2 separate regions of the Homo sapiens genome follow, and region 1 is linked to region 2. Evidence: fine-mapped expression QTL. Tissue or cell type: whole blood. Region 2 holds a variant in brackets; the other region holds the start of a gene. All regions are shown on one strand. Distances are between the middles of the regions.

Region 1 (7,301 bases), 170 kb after region 2:
CCAGCGTGGCCCACATCTCCAGTCCCAGCGTGGCTCAAGCCTGCAATCCCAGCGTGGCCCACGTCTCCAGTCCCAGCGTGGCCCACGTCTCCAATCCCAGCGTGGCCCACGTCTCCAATCCCAGCGTGGCCCACGTCTCCAATCCCAGCGTGGCTCAAGCCTGCAATCCCAGCGTGGCTCACACCTGCAATCCCAGCGTGGCTCACGCCTGCAATCCCAGCGTGGCTCACGCCTGCAATCCCAGCGTGGCTCACGCCTGCAATCCCAGCATGGCTCATGCCTGCAGTCCCAGCGTGGCTCACACCTGTAATCCCATGCCTGCAATCCCAGCACTGTGGGAGGCCAAGGCTGGGTTGGGTGGGGGTGGGGGGATCAGGAGTTTGAGACCATCCTGGGCAATATAGTGAGACCCCGTTTCTACAGATAAAAAAATTTTAAGGCCAGGTGCAGTGGCTTATGCCTGTAATCCCAACACTTTGGGAGGCTGAGGCAGGAGGATCACTTGAGCCCAGGAATTCGAGACCAACCTAGGCAACATGGCGAAACCCCATCTCTCAAAAAAATTAGCCAGGTGTGGTGGTGCATGTCTGCAGTCCCAGCTACTCAGGAGGCTGAGGTGGGAGGATCCCTTGAGCCCAGGAGATGGAGGATGCAGTAAGCCAAGATCCCACCGCTGCACTCCAGGTTGGGCAACAGAGTGAGACCTTGTCTCAAAAGATAATAGTAAAAATTGCTGGGTGTGGTGGCTCATGCCTGTAATCCCAGCACTTTGGGAGGCTGAGGTGGGCAGATCATGAGGTCAGGAGATCGAGACCATCCTGGCTAACACGGTGAAACCCCGTCTCTACTAAAAACAAAATACAAAAAATTAGCTGGGCGTGGTGGCAGGTGCCTGTAGTCCCAGCTACTTGGGAGGCTGAGGCAGGAGAATTGTGTGAACCCGGGGGGTGGAGCTTGCAGTGAGCCGAGATCGCGCCACTGCACTCCAGCCTGGGCAACAGAGCAAGACTCTGTCTCAAAAAAATAATAATAATAGTAACAATTTTAAAAAGCTGGGCATGGTGGCGTGCATCTATAATGCCAGCTACTTGGGGGGTCAAGGTGGGGGGATTGCTTGAGCCCAGGAGTTCAGGGTTACAGTGAGCTCTGACCAGTGATGCAGTGCTCAGGGTTTGAAGAGAGCGTGCACACAAACCGCTAGAGATAAACTCAAAGCACCTGGAAGCTACACCCGCCCCCCCTTCCCCCCGAGAATGGCAGATACTAGAAGGTGGATAGGGCTGAGAGCTGGAAAGAAGACAGGGATGGTGAGAGCATGGACTGGCCGAGCACTTCTGGAAAGCATGGAGAGGCACCCATGCGAAAGCAGAAAGTGCATCTGGAAAACAAAGGCAGCCACCCAGCAGCCACACTCGGGTCGCTCGGAGGGGCTGGAACTCACTGCACTGGGTTATCTGGGAGTGACTGAGTTGTCGGGGAGGGGGGGTGACTTGGTTATGTGAGGGGTGGCTGGGTTCTCTGGGGTGATGGTTATCTGGGGGTGACTGGGTTATACGGGATGGGTTATCTGAGGGGTGCCTCGGTTATCTAGGAGATGACTGGTTTATCTGGTTACCTGAAGGGTGACTTGGTTATTTGGGGATGATGATTTTATCTGGGATGACTGAGTTATCTGGGGGTGACTGAGTTATCGGGTGAATAGGTTATGTGAGAGGTGACTGGGTTATTTGGGGTGACTGGTTTATCTGGCAGTGACTGGGTTATCTGGGGTGAATAGGTTATGTGAGGGGTGCCCGGGTTATTTGGGGTGATTGGTTTATCTGGCAGTGACTGGGTTATCTGGGGTGAATAGGTTATGTGAGGGGTGCCCGGGTTATTTGGGGTGATTGTTTATCTGGCAGTGACTGGGTTATCTGGGGTGAAAGGTTATGTGAGAGGTGACTGGGTTATTTGGGAGGTGACTGGTTTATCTGGCAGTGACTGGGTTATCTGGGTTGAATAGGTTATGTGAGAGGTGACTGGGTTATTTGGGAGGTGACTGGTTTATCTGGCAGTGACTGGGTTATCTGGGGTGAATAGGTTATGTGAGAGGTGACTGGGTTATTTGGGAGGTGACTGGTTTATCTGGCAGTGACTGAGTTATCGGGTGAATAGGTTATGTGAGAGGTGACCGGGTTATTTGGGAGGTGACTGGTTTATCTGGCAGTGACTGGGTTATCTGGGGTGAATAGATTATGTGAGGGGTGCCCGGGTTATTTGGGGTGATTGGTTTATCTGGCAGTGACTGGGTTATCTGGGGTGAATAGGTTATGTGAGGGGTGCCCGGGTTATTTGGGAGGTGACTGGTTTATCTGGCAGTGACTGGGTTATCTGGGGTGAATAGATTATGTGAGGGGTGCCTGGGTTATTTGGGGTGATTGGTTTATCTGGCAGTGACTGGGTTATCTGGGGTGAATAGGTTATGTGAGAGGTGACTGGGTTATTTGGGAGGTGACTGGTTTATCTGGCAGTGACTGGGTTATCTGGTAGGGGTGACTGTTATCGGGGGGTGAGTTGGTTTATCTGGGGTGCCTGGGTTGTCAGGGTGACTGGGTTATCTGCCAGGGCTGATTTATCTGGAGGTGCCTGGGTTATTTGGGGTGACTGGGTTTATCTGGGGTGACTGGGTGGTTGGGTGCTGGGATTGGATGTAGCTGAACTGCCTGCCTCAGGATGAAGTTTGCTGGAAGTCAGGGGCTGGCATCCCTCAGAAAACATGCAAGGATCTTTAAAAACGCAGACGGCGTGAAAGCTCAAAGCAGACACATCCCCTACGCAGCCCAGGGAGGCAGGGGGACCTCCTGGTTTGCTCACAGCAGTGGCCGGGCCTGTGAACACGGGCTCAAAATACATTTTTGGAATGAATTATTGAATGAACTTAAAACTCCAATCACACTAAATCTTTTATATGAAAGATCGTGCACGTTCGTCCTGGTATAGTGGGAAGGGGACCTGCACGAGGGAAAACGGCTGCCTCGAAGAGGCAGGGACCACGCGGGATGCGCCCGCGTCTGAAGCCAGACCCCCGGCTCCCCGAGGGAGAACAGGACGGAGGGCGGGGCTGTGGGGAGCGGAGGGAATGAAGGTCAGGGAGGCGGCGGGGACCCCCTGAGCTGGCACAGGCCCCGGGAACGTCTGTGGAACAGGGGACGGGATGGGGCGTGGGGGAAGGAGGTGCGGGCTGCAGGAGCGGGGGTGATGGGGTCACTCACGGCGGCGGGACTGGGGGTACTGGGTGGGGGGGTCGGGTGGGGCCGGGGCTGCAGTGGAGGGTGTGGGGCGGGGAGATGCCCTCATTGCCCGCGCACTGGCGCCCGAGCCCAGAGAAGAGAGCGCCGGCTTCCCCGCCAGTGGCCGCAGCACCCCAGGAGCGCGGGAACCTCCGGACCCACAGCGGGGCGCGGCCGGGGCAGGTGGGGGGCCCAGGCGAGGAAGCCCCCTCTGCGCCCTGGGCTGGGCGAAGGGCCCTGCGATGCGACGGGGGCAGCCCCAGCGCGCGCCCAGTCCTCACGTCGCCACCGAGCGGCGCCCCCGCCCCAGCCCGGAGCCCCGCAGGGCCGCCCCCACCCCTGCCCACCCTCCCGCGGGCCGGGGCAGCCCCCCGCCAGCCACCCCGCGTTCCCAGGAAGAGGGACCGGTCATTACTCATTCATGTCCTTTCATTTCATTTCAATATTTTCTGCAAAGTCATCGCCCGCGCCGCATCTGCGTGGCGGGGGGCGGGGTGGGGCGGAGCCACGCCGCGGAGTCGCCGCAGGTAAACAGCCCCCTCCCCGCGGCGGGAGCGGGGCCGCCGGCCCCAGGCAGGGACAGCAGCCGCCGCCCGCGCTCCGGGCCGGGATCCCGCCGCCGCCCCCGCCGGAGGCACGCGCCAGGGCGGGGGCCGGGCTGCGGCGGAGGCGGGCGGCTCCGGTGCCCCCCGCCGCCGCCCCGGCCCGGCCCGCCCGCCCCCTGACCCCGGGGGCGGCGGCGGAGCGCCCCCCAAACCCCGCTGCGGGCTCCGCGCCCGGCCAGCCCCGCACCCGCCGCGCGCCTCCGGCTACTCCCATCCCCCGGAGCCCCCCGCTCGGTCCCGGCGTCCCCTGCCACCCTCTCCCGCGGCCCGCGGCCCCGTCCCCGTCCCGCGCCCCCACGCTCCCCGATCCCCGCCCCCGCGCCGCGCGTCCCCTCCCGCCCGCGCCCCCCTCGCCGGGCCCCGCCCCGCGCCCCCCGCCCCGCCCGCGCCCCCCGCCGGGCCGCGCCCCCCGCCCCCCATGCACCACCTCCTGGAGCAGTCGGCGGACATGGCGACCGCGCTGCTGGCGGGAGAGAAGCTGCGGGAGCTGATCCTGCCGGGCGCGCAGGACGACAAGGCGGGCGCGCTGGCCGCGCTGCTTCTGCAGCTGAAGCTGGAGCTGCCGTTCGACCGGGTGGTCACCATCGGCACCGTGCTGGTGCCCATCCTGCTGGTCACCCTGGTCTTCACCAAGAACTTCGCAGGTGAGGCCGGCGGCCGGGGCGCGGGGCGCGGGCAGAGGGGGCGTCCGCAGGTGTCCGGGAGCTGGCGCTTCCCGCGTCCCCGGCGGCTCCGTCCAGCCGCGCCCACCGTGGCCTGGCTGCGTCCGCGGCGTCCCAGGCACCTTCCACAGCCGCCCCCATCCTAGCAGGTGTCGCTGGTCGCACAGACCCCTCGTCTCTATTTTATTGTTGTTCTTCCTTCCATTCGTCCGCCCATGGCCGCGGGTGGGACTAGGCCTGTCTGGACCCAGGGGTCCCAAATGTCATGAGACACGGGGTCTGGTTTGGAGAATGTCACAAGCAGCGCCTGAGGGGATGCAGGGTGGCCAGGTGGGGACCAGGAAAGGCCGGGATGGGTGTTGACAGCAGAGAGCTGATTACAGGGGCTGGTGGAGCTGCCGGGCAGGGTTCCCAGGCTGGACTTGGGTGGAAGGAGGGCAGAGAGAGTCTCTGAGAGGCCCAGGCCCTCCACCCCTCAGGCAGGGCGAGGCCTCTCCGGGTGCACTGGGGGCCTCCGAAGGTTTGAAGCAGGGGGGCTAGCATGGGGCAGGGCCACGTGTCAGAGCAGGGAGCCTGGAGCTCCTGCAGGGAGATGGGGGCTGGACCAGGGCAGGGACCCGCGCTGGTTAGATCAGGACCTGTGGGGGCACTTGAAGCCACCCAGGCGAGGCAGGAAGATGGACAGAGCAGCCAGCCTGCCTGTGAGCCTCTGCGGGGTGGGGTCCTGGTGCCTCTGCCCTCCCCAAGGAGTGGGGCGAGACAGGTGGAGCCGAGAACTTCCTCCCCTGGGGTCTGGGCCAAGGCAAGGGGGATCAGGGTCTCCTGGCCTGTGTGGCCCAGAGGTACTAGTCTGCAGCGGGGAGGGGTGTTGGGACCCTGGGGCCCTCTCTTCTGCAGCCTCCAAACCTCAGCAGACCCTGCCTCAGCACTGGCGCTTCCCAAATCTCCCAGATGCCTTGCCTTAAGGAGTCCCCGTGGCCTGGAGACACCAGGCCTGAGGGTGGACATTGGCCAGGCTGTCTGATCCCACCCAGGGGTGGAGGAGGCCTCTGCTGGTCTCCTCTTCGACACTGGAGGCCAGACCCCGGGGATTAGAGGACCCCTGGGGTGGGCACACAGCACACTCTGCAGAGCAGGGAGCCCAGGCGTGCGGTGGGGCCTTGGGGCAGGCCCAGCATGTCCAGACACCACGTGTGTTCTCTGTGTTTGTAGCAACCAAGTACCGCAAACTAGGCAGTTTCAAACAGCAGACATTTATCTCTCATGGTTCCGGAGGCCAAAAGTCCAAAATCGAGGTGTCGGCAGGGCCCTGCTCCCTCCCACAGCTCTAGGAAAGGGACATTCCAGCCTCTTCAGCCTCTGGTGCTGCCGGCAATCCTTGGGCGCCTTGGCTCGTGGCCGTGCCACCAGTCTCTGCCTCTGTCTTCTCATGGGCTTCTTCCCTCCCTGTCTGTGTCCAAATTTCCTTTTTTTTTGAGACAGAGTCTTGGTATGTCGCCCAGGCTGGAGTGCGGTGGTGCGATCTGCAACCTCCACCTCTCGGGCTCAGGTGTTCTTCCTGCCTCAGCCCCGAGCCCCCAGTAGCAGGGACCACAGGCATCCCACACCACACCCAGCTAATTTTTGTGCCATGTTCCCCAGGCTGGTCTCAAACTCCTGGGCTCAAGTGATCCTCCCATCTCAGCTTCCCAAAGTGCTGGGACTACAGGCGTGAGCCACTGTGCCCTTTTCTCTTCTTCACCACCCCCCCGCTTTTTTTATTTTTATTTTTTGAGACAAAGTCTCGCTCTGTCACCCAGGCTGGAGTGCAGTGGTGCGATGTCGGCTCACTGCGACCTTTGCCTCCCGGGTTCAAGCGATTCTCCTGCTTCAGCTTCCCAAGTAGCTGGGACTACAGGCACCCGCCACCACGCCTGGCTCATTTTTTTTTTTTTTTTTTTGAGACAGAGTCTCGCTCTGTCACCCAGGCTGGAGTATAGTGGCGCGATCTCTGCTCACTGCAAGCTTCGCCTCCTGGGTTCACACCATTCTCCTGCCTCAGCCTCCCAAGTAGCTGGGACTACAGGCGCCCGCCACCATGCCCGGCTAATTTTTTGTATTTTTAGTAGAGACGGGGTTTTGCCATGTTGGCCAGGATGGTCTCGATCTCCTGACCTCGTGATCCGCCCACCTTGGCCTCCCAAAGTGCTGGGATTACAGGCGTTGAGCCACCGTGCCTGACCCATTTTTTGTATTTTTAGTAGAGACGGGGTTTTGCCATGTTGGCCAGGCTGGTCTCGATCTCCTGATCTCAGGTGATCCGCCCGCCTCGGCCTCCCAAATTGCTGGGATTACAGGCATGAGCCACCGCACCCGGCCCAACTTTCTTCTTTAAAGCGGAAAGGAAGCGAGCGCTCTGCCCCCGAGCACCCTCCCAGGAGCCTATGGGCTGGTTCCTCTTTTTGGCTTCATCATCCTTGGAGGGCCGAGCGCAGCCCCTGATGCCGCAGGGCAGGGTTGGGCCTGAGGGCCCGTGTGGCCAGCTGCTGTCTCAGGATGCAGTACCCTCGAAGGTTGGGGGCCAAGTCCCAGGGTCTCCAAGGTGGGCTGGGGAAGGGTCTCGGCCCCCCTCAGCCTGCAGAGAGTGGAGAATGTAGCAGGTGCGCAGCCACCGCCAGGATTAGCTTCCTGTGGCTGCTGGAACAAACCTACAAGTCAGAAGCCAGATGCGAGTCTCATGGGGCTAAAACGAAGGTGTCAGCAGGGCTGGCTCCAAGGGGGAACCC
Region 2 (7,301 bases):
TGGCAGCCTGCATCCCCCCATGCCCCTGATCTCCAGGTTAGGGAGGGACACCCTGTCCATGCCCCCCACTGGCCTCCCTGCCCCTGGTGCTCAAACCCAGCTTCTAAAGCCCCTCACCTGGCCTGACCTCCGCATCCCCAGGGTGTCTCCACCACTGGTCCTTTATGGGGACACTTGGATGGGGATGTCTGGTCACACCATGTGACGCTGACCTCAAATCCACTCCCAGAGACCCGGCACCTCCCCTGAGTCCCAAGGTGCTCCCTGCCCCCCACATGCCCATGGGGGTGCGGCCTCCCACGCCTTTGGGGTGCTCTTGGGTCCAGCCTGGTGGGGATGGCTCCACGACACCCGCACTCCAGACTTGTCCCTGGTGCCGTCACCATCCAGCCAGGCCCAAGCTCCATTTTAACAGCTACCCCTGGACCAATGTTTACTGAGTGGCGGGGACTTACTCGCTCTGCAGCCCCCTCTCCAGTCTATGGGACATAGCAGCCTCTGTTGCAGGAGGGAAAAGAAGGCCCAGCGGCCCACGGCCAGCTGGAAGAGGGCAGCCTGGGCCCAGACTGCGGTGGGAGTGCATCTGCAGATGGGGTGCGACCACCGCTGGGACAGGCTGGGCATGTGGTCCTGCACAGCACTCAGGTGAGACGATGTCCAGGCTCCAGAGGGTGGCTCAGCGGGGAAGCCGGAGAGCCTACGTGACCCACACGAGAAGTCTTCAAGGGCCGACCCCATGGCCCACTGCACAGGCCACTGCTGGGCACCCCTGGCTGGGACCTGGATGTGCCACTTGGAATGTCTGAGAACCGCACATCCCAGCAGGTGGCCCCCAGGCAGGTGGCCTCTGAGACCACAGGAAGTGACTGACCGTTGCTGGGTGAGTGGGGCTGGGATCTGGGGAAGCTGAGACCCTCTGGAGGGGTCCGAGTGGGGCGGGTGCCCCAGTGAAGCTCAGCACCCAAGGATGCACAGACAGGAGAGGTGGACTCCAGCCAGTGTGGGGTGCCCTGGGCAGAAACTGGGGTGATCCTTGACCACCTCGGGCCTGATCAGCTACAGGAAGGGTGGGGTTGCACCCTGCACCCCAGAGCACTGGGGAAGCTCCAGGCAGCTGCCAGGGCCTTGTCTTCAGGGCCAGGGACAGTGGCCATGACCATGAATTGTCTGAGAGGGAGGCTGGGGTCCAGCACCTGGGCCATCCGGGGAAGGGGTAGCCCACCCAGCTCCTGCTGTTCCCAGGGGACTCAGGACAGGGCTGAAGGTCTTTTATGTGACCCAGAGCCCCTGAGGGCCCCATGGAGCTGTAGCCCCAGGACAGCCAGCAGGTGCCTAGGCCCCACAGTCAGGTGAGAACACCCCACACTCTCGGAGGGGGGCCTGGCTCAGCTGTCCGAGGCTGTGCCTTGGCCTCCTGCCCCCCAGCAATGTGTCCCTGGCACCTACTTGTTCGTGAGGAGATTCCTGGCCTCAGGCTGCCGTCCCATGTGGGTGGGTGCAGCTGGAGAGAGACGTAGGGGTGGTACTGGCTGGGACACCACCTCCCAGCCCTGCCCCCACTGTGCGAGGCTGAGACATGTGAGGGAAGGGGAGGGGGCTGCCCAGTCCTGGGGTGCCAGTGGCTGTGGACAGCAGCCTTCCATCTGCAGGGAGGCTCAGCAGACAAGTGAAGGAGGAGCCCACCCTGGCCCCAAGAGGAGTGTGTATGACCCCCAGATCCCCCCACCTGAGCCAGGCCCGGTCCTCCTGCTGCCTCCAGGCCTGTCCCTGGGGCCGTGGACTTGCCCAGCATAGCATGGGCACTCCACAGTGGCAGGTGCCAGCCCCAGGGACACCTGACCAGCAGGTGGCCATTGCCCCTTTAGTCTGTGATCTGCTGGAGGTGACCTTTGCTAGGGAGGGGGACCTAGGCTTGGCCAAAAAGTCTTGCTGGGAGAAGGGGGAGCTGAAGGTCTGCGGGTACTGCCACGGCCCTGGGCATGTCCTGTGGGCAGCAGGCTGCCCTGAAATGGCTGTGGCTCAGCTGAGCTGAGGAGACATTCCAGAGACCCCTGCCTGGCCCACTGGTGCTCCCTGGAAAGGGTCTCCAGAGGCCCTGGGTGCCAGGCTGTCCTATCCACCCCCTCCCACCCCTCCCACCTCTGTGGCTGTTGCGGTTCACCCCACCCGAAGCTAGGCAAGCTCTTTTGCTCACAGGGAGGGGTGCAGGTAGGAGTGCCAGCTCTGACCCTTCCTGGACTCCAAGGCAGAGCCACGCTCCTGACCACACCCAGGCCACATGTGCTTAGTTCTGTCCACTGGGCAGAGTCCTGTCCTGATGTACCCTGGGTCCTGGGAGCCTGGGCCTCAGTGGCTGGTGGGCAAAGGGACATCCCAAGTCACTGGCGGTTGGAACCAGAGCTCTGATCAGGGAAGGTGGACCCCCAGGGAGGAGGAGGCAAGGCCAGTGACAGTGAGACCAGGGTGGGCGTGCGGGAGGCCCAGCGGTGTGTGGTGGAGGGAAATGCAAGGCTGGAGGGCAGTGCTGGGCACAGACCTGGGTTTGGCGCAGAAGCCTGACCTGACTCAGGGCCGGATGGTCTCCCCGTTTCCCCCACCCAGTCTCCTGTTCAGTGCACGCCACGCCCAGCCTGCCGTGGGAGGCCTAGGTCTAGTCCTCGGCCTCCTGCGGCCCCTGAGAGATGGGCACCCACTGGAGCGGAGGTTGCAGAGCTGCTGGGGGACGGAGAAGTGTACATCGGTCCTCCAGCCCTGCAGGCATAAGGCAGCTCCGTCAACATGGCCTCCTGCTTCCCCCGGGGATGGGGGATGGGAAGGGGGGGTGTGAACTGAGGTCCTGCAGTGGAGGAGATGGCTAGGGGCTGGGCACAGCAGCGACACCCACCTGGATGCAGATGCCTGGGGCACAGGCCTCCTCCCTGGGAAGGTCTAGGAAGGCAAAAGCAGGGGCGGCTGCCAGGTCACCCTGGGTGGGGGAGGGCAGGTCACAGGCAATGGGAGGAAGGGTGGATCAGGCTAAACACTGTCCTTCTCCCACATCCTCTCAGCACCCACAAAGCAGGGCTGGCCTCCCATCCCTCCCTGCCAGGTAGACTAGACCCTGGGTGGGCTCAGGGCCCGGGTGGGGCAGAGACCACCACAGGGAAGTGATGGGGTCCTGCCGCCACCACCCCCACCTCCCCAGGATGGAGCCCCACTCTCTCGGCTCACTGAGGCTGAAGGGAGCGGGCTGGCCTGGAGTGTGCGTTGGCAGGCAGGGAGCTGTGACTTCCTCCTGTGACACAGGTGCACCTGGAAGTGGGCGGGGCTGGACGAGAAGAAGGTGACCCGGAGGTGGCCCTTTGTGGGCGAAGGCTGGATGGTCATTTTCCAGGCTGTGGGGAGTGAAGGGTGAGACCCCCATCCGGCCCAGCACCCCACCGCCTCCCTTCCTTCCCCAGTGGGCCTGGCGCCTGCCCACT[G/C]TACCTCCCCCACACTGGCTTGGCACCGTTATTCCACCTCCCTGACCAGCACAGAGTGATATAAAGGATGTTCTGTGCTGCGTCCACATTGCGTAGGCCTCATGGAGAACTTACTTGGGAAGCGACGCTGTTCGAAAGGGCACCGCACCCAGGACCCCCAACTGGTAGAGAACTGCAAAGTGGGGTGAGGGGTGCAGGAGGGTGGAGTGTGTGTGAGGCAGGGGCAGGGACAGGGGCAGGGACAGGGACAGGCTGGGTCAGCTTCAGGGTGCTCTGGGCCCAGTTCTCCTCCTTAGGCCCTTAGCTCACCCACTGTCAGACCAGGAGGGGGCTCTGAGGGACGCCTGGGAGGCTAGGCTCCAGGGCTGGGCAAGGGCCCCTGCCCCACTCCCCGCCCTGATGCCCCCTGGCCCCTCCCCAAATAGGGCACTGGCAGGCTGTGGCAGCCCCTCACCTTCAGGCAGAGCTGGGGCTGGGTGTCCACCAGCGGGTACTGCACCTGAGGAGGGCTGGGGTCAGGCTGTGGCATCCATGCCCACCCCCATCCCTGCTGAGCAGGCACTCACTCTGCGATGCACCAGCTGGCTGGATTGCTGCAGCTTACGGCAGCCGGCCCCCGGCCCCGGGCGCCAGCACAGGCTCACATGGCCACTCACAGGGCAGGCGGGCTCCCAGCTCAGTGTCTGGCTCTCCGGGTGGTAGTAGACCGTGTCCCACAGCACCTCCAGTGCCTCAGTGTCTGCAGGAACCCTCCCCGAAACACAGGTCAGTTGGGCCCTACCCTGGCTGCCAGGCCCATGGGGTCTAGCACCCACTCAAGTGACCACTGGGCCAGGGTCCAGCGCAGTCCTATGGGTCTCTGAGCCCTGGCTCAAGGCTGTGCACGTGTGTGCATGGGTGCATGTGCATGTGTGTGGATATGCATGTGCATGGGTGCGTGCGCCTATGTGTGTGCCTGTGCATGGGTGTCATGGGTATGGGTGTGCGTGAGTGTGCCTGCCTGTGCATGGGTGTGTGTATGTGTACGTGTTTGCATGGGTGTCATGGGTATGGGTGTGCGTGAGTGTGCCTGCCTGTGCATGGGTGTCATGGGTATGGGTGTGCGTGAGTGTGCCTGCCTGTGCATGGGTGTGTGTGCATGTGTACGTGTTTGCATGTGTATGGGTGTGTATGTGCATGGGTGCGTGTGCATGGGTGCGTGTCCATGGGTGTGGGTGTGCGTATGCATGGGTGTGCCTGCCTGCGCGTGGGTGTGCGTGTGCATGTGTATGTGTGTGCATGTGTATGGGCGTGTATGTTCATGGGTGTCTGTGCATGTGTGTGTGCATGTGTATGGGCGTGTATGTTCATGGGTGTCTGTGCATGTGTATGGGCGTGTATGTTCGTGGGTGTCTGTGCATGTGTGTGTGTGCAGCGTCGCTGAGCAGAACCGAGAGCAGGACGTCTCTCTTGTGCCCCTCAGACAGCCCCTCTTGACAGGCTTGGTTTTCCCAGGTGAGCTGGTCCACGTGCGCACACATGTACATTGCACACACACACACACTTATGCACATCCACATCTGTGCGCAGGTTCCCTTGGTGACAAGCCCTTCCGAGCAGGCTCAGGGATTTAGGCTGGGCCTGCTCCTTATCTCATCCCCCCACGTCAGTCCTCATGGTGGAGTCAGACTGGCCGCAGCCATTCCCACCCTTCCGCCCGTTGGCATCGCAGGACACTTGCCGTTTTCAAAGGGGCAGATCTGGATCCGCACCGCGTCAGGGGTCGCAGACCAGCCCTGTGGGAGGGGCTGGGGTCAGCGCAGCCCACCCATCCCTGTGCTCCCCTCACCCGCCCCAAGTCCAGGCCACACCTCCACCGACCTCCAGGCACAGGCACGGCAGCTCCTGGCTGTAGGGCAGGAAGACGGCCTGGGAGACGCTGTTGGCGGTCACCTGCAACCCAGAAAGGGCGGCTGAGGGGCCGCGCGGGAGGGCGGGGGTGGTCTGGGGTGGGCGGGACCTGCACCGAACGGGGCGGGAGCGGGGACGGGAGGTGGGTGGGGCCTAGGCCTGGCCGGGGGCGGGGCGCGGAGGTGGGTGGGGCCCAGGCCTGGCCGGGGGCGGGGCGCGGAGGTGGGTGGGGCCTAGGCCTGGCCGGGGGCGGGGCGCGGGGGGTGGGCGGGGCGCGGGGTGGGCGGGGCCTAAGGCTGACCGGGGCCCGGGGCGCGGAGGTGGGCGGGGCCTAAGGCTGACCGGGGCCCGGGGCGCGGGCGCTCACTCGCACAGGGGCGCCGGCGTCCTCGCAGGTGAACCGCTTGAGGCAGAGCCGCAGGTAGTAGTCGGGGCTCCCGGAGGCCCTGGGCACTTGCACCAGAATCGCCTTGCGCCTCCGGTCCACCCAGTAGCTGAGCTTCCCCGCTGCAGGAGGCGGCAAGTCGGGGCCGCGCTGGGACCAGCGGTCACCGACGCGGGGCTCTGTCTGTCCCGAGAGCCCCGACGTGGTGGCTCCTGCTGGGTTCAGACGTTTGGGAGTCGCCCGCCCGAGGGCCCCTCAGGATTTCCCAAATGGGGCAGAAGACCCCGGGGAGAGGAAGCCTGTCGCAGCGTCTGAGGGTCTTCGCAGGGGCGTCGAAGGAGGGAACTCACCGAGGCAGTCGGGCACGCTCCTCCCCACGTCCTCCTCTCCGCAGTCTGCAAACCGCAGAGGCAATGGCGGGGTGCGGGCTGCCCTGCCCTCAGGGGCCATCCTCCTCCACCCGCCCCCCATCCACGCGCTGTGCCTCTGTCATGCGACCTCGAATTAAGCCAGAGGTCTTGCGGGGATCTGTCCAGTGTGAGGGCCAGGCCCCTGCCCTGGGCAAGTCCCACCCCAAGCCAGGCCCTGGAGGCTGAACGGTAGCTGTGCTCAGGGGGCCCTGGGGACCCTACCTTCCACGAGGTGCCTCTGGTCCAGCTGGACCCCGCAGAAATGAGGGATGGTCCTCAGGGTGACATAGAGGTGCTGGGCCACGCTCACCGCAAAGCAGCCAAAGTGCACTTGGAGCTGAGCAGGTGCAGGTGTGAGCTGCGTGGACTCAGAGGCACTGCCCACCCCACCCGGCCAGCTCCACTTGCATGGCTGGAGCTTAGAGCCAGGGATGGCGCCCAGGAGGAGTGGCGCCCAGTCTTCGGGACTTGGGTGGCAGAGCCCTGCCTTGGCCTCACCTGCTGCCCCCCCTGCTGCCGGTGGGAGGCCCTGGCCACCCACACGCTCTGACACTGCGTCTCCTGGGTGTCCAGGCTCATGGCACAGGCCTCCAGGCCCCGCAGGCGCTCTGGGTGGAGGAAGGACCCGGCAGGGTGCATCAGAGCAGGGCCGCCCCTGGCTCCGGACGGGGCCGTGGGACCCTGTTCCTCTGCCTTCTCTCTGTGAAGTGCGGTTAGCAGCCCCCCTCCCTCACCAGGCCGCCCAAGGTTTGATGGGAATAAAAGGCACCTGGGCCCACTGCTGGACCTGCGGGTGTTAACTCCCACCCTCGAGGCCACCTCTCACCATGCAGGGTGATGGAGGCGCGTACACGCAGGAGCATCGCGCAGCCGTCAGAGGGGACACACTGCATGGCAGTGGAGGACGTCAGGGCCTCCAGGACTGACCTGGACATGGACACGGGGCGTGGCCGGCAGAAGCTGTTAAAAATGTTCCCTGGGGAGGGAGAAGGAGCGTGAGGCCTCGAGTTCCCTGGTGCTCGGAAAGGCTTTGTGGGTGGTTCTGGGAAGGGGGAGAGAGCCCTGGGGCTGCAGTCTTTGCCAGGGGGTCTTTACTATCTTGCCCCAGGCCAACTGGAGAGCAAGTCCCCTGGCATGTGGTGAGCCCCCACCCCG

Evidence for each region. PIP is the estimated chance that this variant, and not a neighbour inherited with it, causes the effect.
Region 1: it holds the start of PANX2, and the variant in region 2 is fine-mapped to the expression of PANX2 in whole blood (INTERVAL, PIP above 0.99).

The regions. Positions count from the first base shown.
Region 1 is chr22:50,166,439-50,173,739 of GRCh38, forward strand. It overlaps PANX2 (pannexin 2), which reads left to right and starts at 4,293. Exons shown (of 3, transcript NM_052839.4): 1 at 4,293-4,518. The coding sequence starts at 4,293. RefSeq lists a silencer at 3,467-3,526 and an enhancer at 5,126-5,818.
Region 2 is chr22:49,994,110-50,001,410 of GRCh38, forward strand. IL17REL (interleukin 17 receptor E like) reads right to left here. Exons shown (of 15, transcript NM_001371417.1): 3 at 6,973-7,122; 4 at 6,645-6,754; 5 at 6,369-6,483; 6 at 6,087-6,131; 7 at 5,719-5,858; 8 at 5,322-5,393; 9 at 5,182-5,236; 10 at 4,028-4,200; 11 at 3,916-3,960; 12 at 3,576-3,633; 13 at 3,211-3,374; 14 at 2,885-2,965; 15 at 1-2,751. The coding sequence ends at 2,566. Among named protein-coding and RNA genes, the nearest start is that of IL17REL, 15 kb to the right of the region's middle. RefSeq lists enhancers at 5,292-6,250, 6,251-7,210, 7,211-7,301. The variant G/C (reference allele first, on the strand shown) is at 3,462.